Regions from separate parts of the Homo sapiens genome. Here region 1 is linked to region 2. Evidence: fine-mapped expression QTL. Tissue or cell type: whole blood. Region 2 holds a variant in brackets; the other region holds the start of a gene. All regions are shown on one strand. Distances are from middle to middle.

Region 1 (5,000 bases), 100 kb before region 2:
CACAATCCTCATCTTCCTCCCCCGCTCATCTCATCCCCTACCTCATTCCCCCTGACGCATTTACTCTATCCACGGCAGCTTTCTTGCTGTCCTGAACTACCATGTGCATTGCTTATGCTCTGGGGGCTCATTCGGTTCATAGTCATTTGTTGAACACCTACTATGTGACAGTCATGAAAAGGCACTGGAAAATACAAGGTAAAAAACTAGTGTGAAAACAGTTGAATCCGAAGACAGTCTGTGGTTTACTGAATATTAGTGTACCAATGTTAATTTCTAAGCTGTGATAAATGTACGATGGTTATGTAAAGTGTTAACATTAAGGGAAGCTGGGTGGAGGGTAAAGAAGAACTTTCTATGTATTTTTACAACTCTTCTAAATACTTTAAATTGTTTCAAAATCAAACATTTTTATTTTAAACAACATACAGTTCCTACCTTCAGGAACTCAAATTCTAGAGGAAAAGGTGGGCGTGTAAATAAATGAGTCCACCAAAGTGAGTGATAACTTCCAGGTCAGAAGTCATGTTCGGGACAGGATGTGAAGGGGAAGGAGGCAGGCCGGCTGTGGCCAACCCTGTTATCCAGTACAACCGTTTAACCTCCTAAAGCCTCAGTTTACTTCTCTGCAAAATGGGAACTAGGGAACAGACACGGGTCCTTGCAGGGCTGGTGGGAGATCTGCAAACCGAAGTCACCATGGGACCGCGCATGCTATCAACAGCCAGGCCGAGCAGCACCTGCCGCCCTCCCAGTGACCCACCTGGAACTCCAGCCCGTAGATCACTGGTGCATCGTCCTCCATGCTGCGGGGAAGCGACCCGACCCCGGCCACTCACACGCTAAGGACCTCGCTACGGCCGGCGCGTCCCCACCTCGCGGGCGTGTTCCCAGCGCCCATTCATTCCCTCCCCGCAGCAAACGACTCCAAACTGGAAGTCTTTCTGGCCCAGAACAGCTTCCGTAGTGGCCACTTCCTATTTTTCGGATGTGTCATCAATCTGTTCCTCACCAGCGACCAATGGCAGCGGCGCTGGCTTGTGCGCATGGCCACTTGGGCTCACATCCGGGCTCTCAGCGCGGGGACTCCTGGAGGTGAGAACCCGGCCCAGAGGAAATAAGTTGGTGGGCGGAGCGGGCCGCGGAGGCCGGCTGTGGGTGGAGGCCGGCTCCGAGCGCAGGCCGTCGGGAGCAAGCGGCGATTAGCCTTAGCTAGCCATCGCATCTAAGAATCGCTCACGCCGTAGTTGGGCGCCGCCATGTATTGTCATTTGTATGTACTTGGCGTTCCTGAGCGCTGGGCCAGCGCTTCACACGCACTGCCATAAGGAGCTTCATCCAACCCTATGAATAAGCTGTTACACTTCCATTTTACCGATGAGACGCTGCAAAGTTGAGTAACACAGTCGCAGCGCTCATTGGTCCATTGGGTAGCCAGGATGGGCACCTGAGCTGACTCCCTTAGGTTCGGCCCAAGGTGCCCTAAGTCAGGGCCATGCCTAATGCATTTCTGCAGGTGCCCAGCACTGTGTGGCAAAGAAAGCACTACCAAGGATGGGGTTATGAAAGCCGGCACCGCACCACTGGTGGTCCTGGACTGCATATGCCTCCGAATGGGAGTCGGAAGGGAAGGCCCTGGGGTTCCTAGAGGTCTCCAAAGACTAAAGACTTGTGGTGGAGAGACTGCCCCTCTTTCGCATCCTGCTCAAAGTGCCTGCCCTGGCCTTGGGCCAGCAGAAATGGCATCGCAAGGACTCCAAAATACATCATAGCTGAACCACGCCGCTAGCCTGGTTCCACCGGGGCTTCCAGGACCACGCACCTTTCCTCCATTTCTGTGATTAGCTTTCCCCTCTACCCTTTATTGATCTCCGTGACGGAAATGGTTGGGTCTCGTTTTGCTCAGTTGGGCAAGGCGCGTGGTATTGAGTTAAGGCTGGATGAGTATCTGTTGAGTGTATGAAATTTTAGAGATTACATGAGAAATCAAATGAGCAGGCCGGGCGCGGTGGCTCACGCTTGTAACCCCAGCATTTTGGGAGGCTGAGGAGGGTGGATCACAAGGTCAGTTCGAGACCTGCCTGGCCAACACAGTGAAACCCCGTCTCTACTAAAAATACGAAACTTAGCCCAGCGTGGTGGCACGCGCCTGTAATCCCAGCTACTCGGGAGGCTGAGGCAGGAGAATCGCTTGAACCCGGGAGGCGGAGGTTGCAGTGAACCGAGATCGCGCCACTGCACTCCAGCCTGGGCGACAGAGCCAGAGTCGGTCAAAAAAAAAGAAAAGAAAAGAAAGAAATCAAGTAAGCAAAAACAAGAAAGAAAGAAATCAAGTAAGCAATGGCCCAGACATGAGAATCATCCTATTCAACCACTCTGTTTGCCGATATTAACTTGCGGAGCTAAGAGGGCCTTCATACTTCGGGATTAAACCCACCCATCTATCACTGATATCTTTATCATTAATTTTATTATACAAGTACTGCAGGTGCATGGTAAGAAACTTACAAAATACAGATAAACACAAAGACAAATCCATAGAAACACTGATTTCTAGGATATGCTGGTCAATAAAAATAGCCTAAGCGACTCCCTTTCACCCGCCCCATCTGCCACAGGCTTGCCTATTGCCTCTGAGTGACAGAATCAGGCTAGGTGGAGTGGAGTCTCCGTTCCCATTTCCAAGTACAGGGTCCGCTCCCCTCAACTACCGGCTCCTGGTTGCCTGTGCGCGTTCACACCTAGGGCTCCAGGCCCCGCCCACAGCAGACGAACCGGAAACGAACCCCATTTCCGGCCTGGGGGCAGGGCCTCGGGTTCCTGCATCGGGCCTGAGCAGAACTAGGCGCGCCGCGGCCCGGCACGCGCAGGCGTACAGAGCTCCCCGGGGGTGCCAGTTCCTCTCCGATTCCCGGCTTCTGTCACCTTCCTCACGGACCTTGGTCACGGCCGCAGGTGACCCCTTAGCCCAGCTCCAGTGGGCGGGTGGCAGGTGAGGATCAGGGCCTCGGCAGTCCAGAGGGGATGGGACCGTGTAGCGCCACCTCGGGGAGGGAGCACACTGGCTTTGGCCTCAGCCCGGAGGGACCTTCTCTGGGACCGATGCTAGAGTGGGCGTGGGGTCCGGGCGCGGGGTCGCCTGCCACCCAAGGGCGTGTGTGCTCCGCGGGCCTTGTGCCAGGCTCCACGTCGCCGCGGCCCTTGCTCTCCACGTCTGCAGAGGGCTGGAAGCGTCTCTGCAGCCCGCGGAGTTTGCGGGAAGGGGAAGCTGCTGCGAAGCGTGTGGGAAACTACCCGCTGGCGCGCGCCCAGGCGTCCCCGAGACCCCCAGTTCCAGGCTTGGTGCCAGCCAGGCCCCCAGCAAGCCCCTTAACTTCCCTTAGACTTAATTCACCCTCCCGCGGAAAGAGGTTACTAATGACCTGCCCTGCCAAACTCAGCATTGTGAGGCTGCAATGCAGTGTAAAAGCATTTGAGTCACTGTGTAAACGTCCGCTGTTGCTACACATACTAATTGTAGAGTATATTTACTGTGAAGACCGAAAAAGCGTTTATTCAACAGAAAGCGTTAGGGTCAAAGATGTGTTTTAACGTGTCATTTTTTCACTCTTCACTACGAAACAGTGTAGCCCCAAGGAAAAATTTTCTTGGACCTACGGTTTGTACTTTTTAATGGCTACTTGAAGATATGGTGTCTTTGGATTCAGTCACTGTTCGCAAATTCAGAAGATAGTGGCGGATAATGAGCCAGTCCCGTCTTGGGATTGGGGTGGGAGAGGGACAGGGGAAAAGCAAATGAAATATTACACAGTGTTACTCATTCAGTTCTTACATTTTGTGATATCTGATGGGATCTTCTTCACAGTTACTAAACTGGGTGTTGCCACTCTGCTTTATCATTAAAATGATAATTACTATGCTTGTGTCTGTGCAGCTCTTCACACTTTAAAAGATGCCTATGCAGGGGTGCCACTATTTAATCCTCTTTATTCTGATGTACCATCTAAAAGATCAAGATTTTCAGAGGTTACTTCACTTGGTCGGGAAGCTAAGACTCAACACAGTTATTGAGACACTGCCTTCAGAGCTCTTTCTGCCCACCCCTGCCTGGCAACCTTGCAAGAGGAGCTGAGAGGTGACCAGCACAAAGAAAAGAGTATTGGCAGAAAGCGCTGTGTGGGTAGCCTGTCACCATCAGGTACTGTCAGTGTGATGTTAGGCAAATCACTTGGCCTTCTCTGCTGTATGATGGAGGTAATAATAATGCTTCAAAAGTTTAGGATGAGTATTAAATAATAAGGTAAAATGCTTGATCTGTAGTGAGTGTTCATTACATGGAGACTTCTGTTAATACGTGCCACCTAGATTTCCACTACACACCCTCGTGCCCTTATGGAAGGAAATTTTACATGACTGCAATTTGGTAAAAGATATGTTTACAGAGTGTCTGTGTCCAGGAAATGAACCTGAGAAACCAAGTTTTAAATGTTGTTAGGAACTTTTTATTTCTCAAATACAGAATTACTTAAATTTAATATTTAAAAAAATTTTAAACAATTAATTAATCACATTCTTGTGCAAAGCCCTCAACTGGACAAGGAGAAAGTCAGATTTCTTTGCTGCACTGTGATGTAAAGCTTCTGTAAGCTTATGTAAGCTTAAAATCCTATTTATAGTTTAATAAAAATAAAGCCAATGATAGGAGGGAGTAAAGATTTCTATCACGTACAAATCAAGAACAGATACTTGTGTTTTTCCATTTTTAATTATGAACTATAAAGACTACCCGTAACACACATGTGAGATTTAAAGATCAAGTCAACCCAGTCTTCCATTACCAGCATAAGATGGGGACCATTTCCCAGTGCGTTGAAACTTCCGTGTGTCCCTCCCCAGTCAAGCTCTCCTGCCATCACCTTCCACCCCTCCCTCACTAAAGTGGCTGTTACTATATCCTGGCTTTTCTTTGTAGTTTGACCAAATATGTTTGTGTTCCTAAC
Region 2 (6,120 bases):
TCTGTCTTTACCCTCGTGAGCGCGGCTTGGGCCATAATAGGACTTTTCTTTCATTTGTATCTATTTCTTATTGTAAGCCTTAGATCATTTATTCCCTTCCTTACACTTCTAGAGGTGAAAGAAAACCCAAGTCTGCCTTTGTAAAACCAAGCTGTGGCCTCAGGAGTCAGGGCTGGGGCACTCAGCCTTCCACCCCCCAGGCCTCCTCTGCCACAGGCCTGCTGCATCCGGCTGCATTTCAGTCGGGCAGCCGGTGGGTTTCCTGACATGCGTGATAAGAGTGGGTTTGAGTTTGGTTTGGCTTGTTTTTTACAGTTGAATTCTATATTATTTGGTCAAAATATTACTTTGCAATTTGCAAATGTGGTGGCACCTACCATTTTACTAGCCACAAGTAACTCATAAGTTGACGTAGGACCTGCTCATATTATACCAATATTTTAAGTATTTTATGTTTCATCTTATTAGTTATTCATTTTATTTTATCTAATGCTCTGCCAGAATTCATTCCAAAAGGTAAAAATTACTAAACTATAAGACTCTTAAATAAGGCGTGTATATTAGCAACTTAGTTTCTGACATATAGAACATTAACATTCCACTGTATCTTAAATGTCTTTTGCCTTTTTATTAAAAAATGATTAAATGGTTACTGAAGTTTTCCTCTGCCTGACATATAAATGTCTTCATATTCTAACATGATATTAGGGAACTAAATATATGAGTATAGACTTAATATTTCTTTTGTCAACTAAACTGACTAAATTTTGTCAAAGCAGATTGGAGACATAAAAACAGCTGAAAAGTATTTTCAAGACGTTGAGAAAGTAACACAGAAATTAGATGGACTACAGGGTAAAATCATGGTTTTGATGAACAGGTAAATATTTTAAAACTAAATATATGTTTTCTCAAATTTCCCAGAGGCGTTCAAGCCCCACTTACTGAGTTGGAAAGCTCCCTAGAGAAGGCGCTTCTCCCTGTATCTCCTCTTGCCCTGTGTCTCTCAGAGCGGAGACCCAAGGAGTATACAGGTGTTTTCTTGAATCGCAGTGATGTTCTTTTAGTCACAGAAGCTGATTTTTAAGGAGCTATTCCCCCTTGTTCTTCAGAGAAGCGCTTGTATTGCCCCCGTTTTCAGCGTATGTGTGTGTAAAGGTCACCATTGCTGGCGTAGCGGCCGTTCTGGATCCTGTGCTCTGGTGTTCTGTGTCTGGATCCCGTGCTCTGGTGTTCTGTGTCTGGATCCCGTGCTCTGGTGTTCTGTGGTAGAACGCACAGCGTCGTGCGAGTGCACGTTCGTGAGGAGGAAACACGCCTTGGACAAAGCCTGCAGCCAGGATCAGAAAGCGTAAATAAAGCAGGTGTCCGCTTTTAGCAGGAAGTCATTTAGGTGAAGTTACTCTATCTCAATTAACAAAAACTAGAGTGGCTTGGCCGGGTGCAGTGGCTCATGCCTGTAATCTCAGCACTTTGGGAAGCTGAGGCACGTAGATCACTTGAGGTCAGGAGTTTGAGGCCAGCCTGGCCAACATGGTGAAACCCCATCTCTACTAAAAATACAAAAAATTAGCCAGGCGTGGTGGCAGTCGCCTGTAATCCCAGCTACTTGGGAGGCTGAGGCAGGAGAGTTGCTTGAATCCAGGAGGCGGAGGTTGCGGTGAGCCGAGATCGTGCCACTGCACTACAGCCTGGGCAACGAGAGCAAAACTCCATCTAAAAAATAAAAATAAATAAAAACTAGAGTGGCTTTAATGTGCGAGCCTGAATGCAAAACGCAGCTCACCGCCTCTACCTGGAGATCAGGAACCCCGGGCCACACAGGGCCATACGCTGGGTCTCTGTGGGATCCAAAGCCCCTGTGGGTTGTGTTGGGGGACAGCAGCTCCTGGGCTTTCCCCGCTAACTGCCACCGTTGCTTGTGTTACAGCGCGTTCCTTCACCTCGGGCAGAATAACTTTGCAGAAGCCCACAGGTTCTTCACAGAGATCTTAAGGATGGATCCAAGAAACGCAGTGGTAAGATCCCCAAGCTGCAGGATCCTCCATCCTCTGCCTTTCACAGACGCTAGAAACATACACCCACACACGTCTCAGCAGGGGCCTGCGCTCTCTCTCTCCAGTCCACCAGCTCCAGGCAGTGGCTGTGGCCCTTAGGGGAAGTGACCCAACAGGGCCACCTAGGCTCTGCCCAGCAGCTCTGCACCACCCCCAGGCCCCTAACACGGCCCAGCACGCAGCCTGGAATGGGCGGGCGTCTGTCCTGGTTGTGTGGGCCAACCCTGGGCGTGTGCTCCTCCCTAGGCCAACAACAACGCTGCCGTGTGTCTGCTCTACCTGGGCAAGCTCAAGGACTCCCTGCGGCAGCTGGAGGCCATGGTCCAGCAGGACCCCAGGCACTACCTGCACGAGAGCGTGCTCTTCAACCTGACCACCATGTACGAGCTGGAGTCCTCACGGAGCATGCAGAAGAAACAGGCCCTGCTGGAGGCTGTCGCCGGCAAGGAGGGGGACAGCTTCAACACACAGTGCCTCAAGCTGGCCTAGCTGCCTCCAACACACTACGTCAGAAGGACCCGGGTCTTTGAAACTGTGTCTTGAAGCTAATGTATTAATGTGACATGGAGGAACTCAATAAAACTCCTGCTTCACTGGTGTCTGCTGCGTGTCTTCTTGGTCCCAAGCCACGGCCCAGCCCAGGACTTCCCCGCAGTTGGTCGGCGTTCAGCCACGCAGTCCCTGCAGCTGGGTCACTGTTCATGAATGCAAGGGGCAGGCGTGCTGGGAGGACACAGCTCGTAGACAGGAAATCTGGAGTCAGCCTCGGGGCCTCTGTTCTGGAGGCCAATCCTGCTTTGCTCGTTCCTTCTGGACATCCTCAGAGAAAAGCTGGGAGGTGTGGAGACCCTCTCGCCGTGCACCTGCACGTACAGGGAGATTTACAACAGGGAAGACACCCCCCACAGATCGCCGCTCATGCTCCTCTTGCCCTCCCCACACACCCAAAACTAAGTGCGTTGGTCTTACCCATCCGAGTCTCCTCCAGCCTGATGCCAGCCAAACGACCCCTGCCAGCCTGGCGGTGGAGGAGAGGCCATCACTGTTTCTCCCATAGTTTATACGTCCA[C/G]GTGGAGAGTGAGCTGAGTGGAACAGGAAGCACGACGCATAATGAAGCACAGGAAGAGCGCGTAAAACGCAGGCAGGCAGGGGCTGGGGGTGGTTTTGAAGCCAGACACGTGTTTTCATGTGTTCTCTCATGCCTGAAAGGCCTTTTGCCCTTACGTTTACACAGTTATTCCTGCTTTTGAAGAACTTAAAGTACCTGAAAATGTCTTCACTTTACGAAAGAACTCTGCCAAGGGTTCTCTAAATATCTAGCTTTGTGGATAGTTTTAAATATAATTCATTTTACAGACTGTGATATAAACATTTGCACAAAGCGAAGCCATATTTCTGTTAATTTTTGTAATAGAGTAGAAACATACAAACACTGCATCTACCAGACAGTCTCAGCCCATTTGCTGACATCTAGATTAATTATGCATTAAAAGAAAAGAAAAAAGAGGTGAGACAGCCAAAAGGACTGTTGGACACCAAGGAGGTTTCAAGATCTTTCTCTTCAAAAAGAGAACTGAAACTATTGTTAAGCCCAGAAAGATGAAGATGTAATTAGAAGCCCTCCACCTTGAGGGTCTTCCTTCAAATGTGACTTCAGGGATGAAGTGTAAGGCTCTTCCTCTGCTCCAACCTGGCACCTTACTGCAGGCATCTTACAGGATTTGCCAGAGGATTATGGAGCCCGTCCTTTACAGGCTCGGGGCTCAGAGCTGTCCCCGGCCAGTTGTGCGGGAAAGCAGACAGCAGTGCCCAGGCTCCAGCTAGACATGAGCCCGGCAAATCAGAAACAGAGATCAAAGTTCCCTAGTAAGCTGGTAAGCCTAAATCCACCCTCCCTCCCAAGCCCCACCCCCATGCTGCTGGCATGAGGCCAGGCCAGGTGACAGTATCATTGCCTCGTTTCTTGCCTGGATTATTTCTTCCTGGTTTTTTTGTTTTTTTTTTTTTTTTTTTTTTTGAGACAGGATCTTACTCTGTCATCCATCCAGGCTGAAGTGCAGTGGTGCAAACATGGTTCACTCCAGCCTCAACCTCCTGGGATCAAACGATTCCCCACTCTCAGCCTCCTGAGTAGCTAGGACCACAAGTGTGCTCCACCACGCCCAGATTTTTTTTATTTTTATAAAGATGGGATCTCACTATGTTGCCCAGGCCAGTCCCTAACTCCTGGCCTCAAGTGATCCTCCCACCTCGGCCTCCCAAAGTGCTGGGGTTACAGGTGTGAGCCATGGTGTCCAGCTAATTTTTTTTTCCTACTGCCTGTATGATTGCAGAATTTTTTGTTTTGTTTTGCTAGAAGAGGAAAACGGTGCTGTGAGTGTCTATAACGTCTGGGACAATTGTAGCTTATCTAGTTTACACTTAGCTTTTCTTTATGTTAAAAATAAATTATACATCCCAGAAATCTTTTCTAGAGCCAATTGAAGTGAATGGCTAACGATCAGAAAGCTTATTTTCTAACTGGAAAATGGGAACTCGCTGAGTTGATGATGGGCTCACAACTGTGGAAATGCCCACCCTGGAATGCACAGTGGAGAATGAAGAAGCCAGTAACCCTGATGGCATCGTTACCGAATGGCCAGGGTGTGCCAGGCGGCAAGGGTGGATTTGCTCCCTGAATGATCCATCCAGCTGAATCTTGAGTCATTCCGCGTTTGCCACGAGGGGCAGTGTTAGATCAGTGGTCCTCAAAGTGGGGTCCCCGAAGCAGCAGCACCAGGTTCTCCTGGGAACTTGACGGAAATGCACATCCTCAGCCACATCCTCTGATCACAGAGGAGTCAACTGCTGGGGCCTGGGCTGGGCCGGCCCGACAGTGTCGTCTGCACCGCCCTCCAGGAGCTTCTGGTGCTCCTGCAGGTGTGAGAACGCATGTCAGACGCCGGAGGCCACAGACAGAATTCCAGTTACACAGCAGGCGTTGGAGCCCATGGGCATCGCCATCCTGCCTTACACTGCTGGCCTCTTCTATGCCCCCTCGAGGATTGTGCCCCCACTTGTTCTCTCTGCCTGGACCCCTCCTGGCATGCACCTTCCTAGTCCCTATTCAGTGTCACCCCCTGAAGCCTGCCCTCAACCCCAGGACAGTGCAGCCCCGTCCACACTCCCCTTACCTCTTGTCCTGGACCCACACAGGCTCCGCAGCACCTGCTCCTGGCACGGCCCCACAGTTGCAGTACTTGGGCTGGAGCTGCCGCCATGAGGTCCTCCTTCAAACACCCAGTTCCAGCGTTCCCCGGGAAGCTTCCCATGCCATCTTGTCACGTCTTGCACCCAGCACCGAGGGTGAGGCCCGGCAAAGCAGAGCTGCAGGGGCTCAGCTGTGTACACCACAGTTCTTGAGACGCCCACCTGTGTGTCCTCCCCGATCCTGCTCCACAGGTCCAGGCCCAGGCCCAGAGGTAGCCCCTGCGTTCCCGTGGCTTCAGGCACACGTGTGCAGACATGACGCCGAGAACACCGGCTTTGCCACCAAGGACAGAAGACAGTCTGCCCCACCCGGGGTCACCTGCAGGTCCTGCTCTGACCAGGGTCCAGGCCCTGATTCCGGGGATGCGACAGCACCCAGAATGTCCTGCCTTGTGTGGCACGTGGGACCGGGGACTCGGGCCCCAGGGCTCCCAACCCTGGCTGTGGAGAGTGGGTGGCTCCGCTGCTGGTCGGGGGCACTGTGTGGGCAGACAGCGTGCCAGTGGCCACAGGATGTCCTGACAGCAGAGGCGCTAAACACTCCAGGAGCGCCTCAGCCCCAAGCTCTGGTTCCACCCCTTGCGGGTGAGGGAGGCCCAATGACAGCCAGACTCCATCAGTTCAGAGGCAGGGGCTAGAGATGGATTTAATTCAACTTAAAAAGAAATACAAGAATGGACCTTTTCTGCAGTCCTGAGGGAGTGGACAGGTTGCGTGCGTGCTCTGACGGTGGGATCCAGACCCCCTCCTCTCCTGCGTTGAAGGTGCCACCGGGCCTCATCCCCAGCCACATCACATCCTGAGCCTCTTACAG

The links. PIP is the estimated chance that this variant, and not a neighbour inherited with it, causes the effect.
Region 1: it holds the start of TRAPPC12, and the variant in region 2 is fine-mapped to the expression of TRAPPC12 in whole blood (TOPMed, PIP above 0.99).

Annotation. Positions count from the first base shown.
Region 1 is chr2:3,376,885-3,381,884 of GRCh38, forward strand. TRAPPC12 (trafficking protein particle complex subunit 12) reads left to right here and starts at 2,810. Exons shown (of 12, transcript NM_016030.6): 1 at 2,810-2,992. EIPR1 (EARP complex and GARP complex interacting protein 1) reads right to left here and starts at 934. Exons shown (of 9, transcript NM_003310.5): 1 at 764-934. The coding sequence starts at 805. RefSeq lists enhancers at 438-717, 738-917, 938-987, 1,259-1,775, 1,776-2,292 and silencers at 1,158-1,217, 2,781-2,830.
Region 2 is chr2:3,476,916-3,483,035 of GRCh38, forward strand. It overlaps TRAPPC12 (trafficking protein particle complex subunit 12), which reads left to right. Exons shown (of 12, transcript NM_016030.6): 10 at 780-880; 11 at 1,931-2,018; 12 at 2,304-2,650. The coding sequence ends at 2,546. It overlaps TRAPPC12-AS1 (TRAPPC12 antisense RNA 1), which reads right to left. Exons shown (of 2, transcript NR_046720.1): 1 at 5,231-6,120; 2 at 1,678-4,970. It also overlaps the pseudogene LOC112268321. Among named protein-coding and RNA genes, the nearest start is that of TRAPPC12-AS1, 3.3 kb to the right of the region's middle. The variant C/G (reference allele first, on the strand shown) is at 3,127.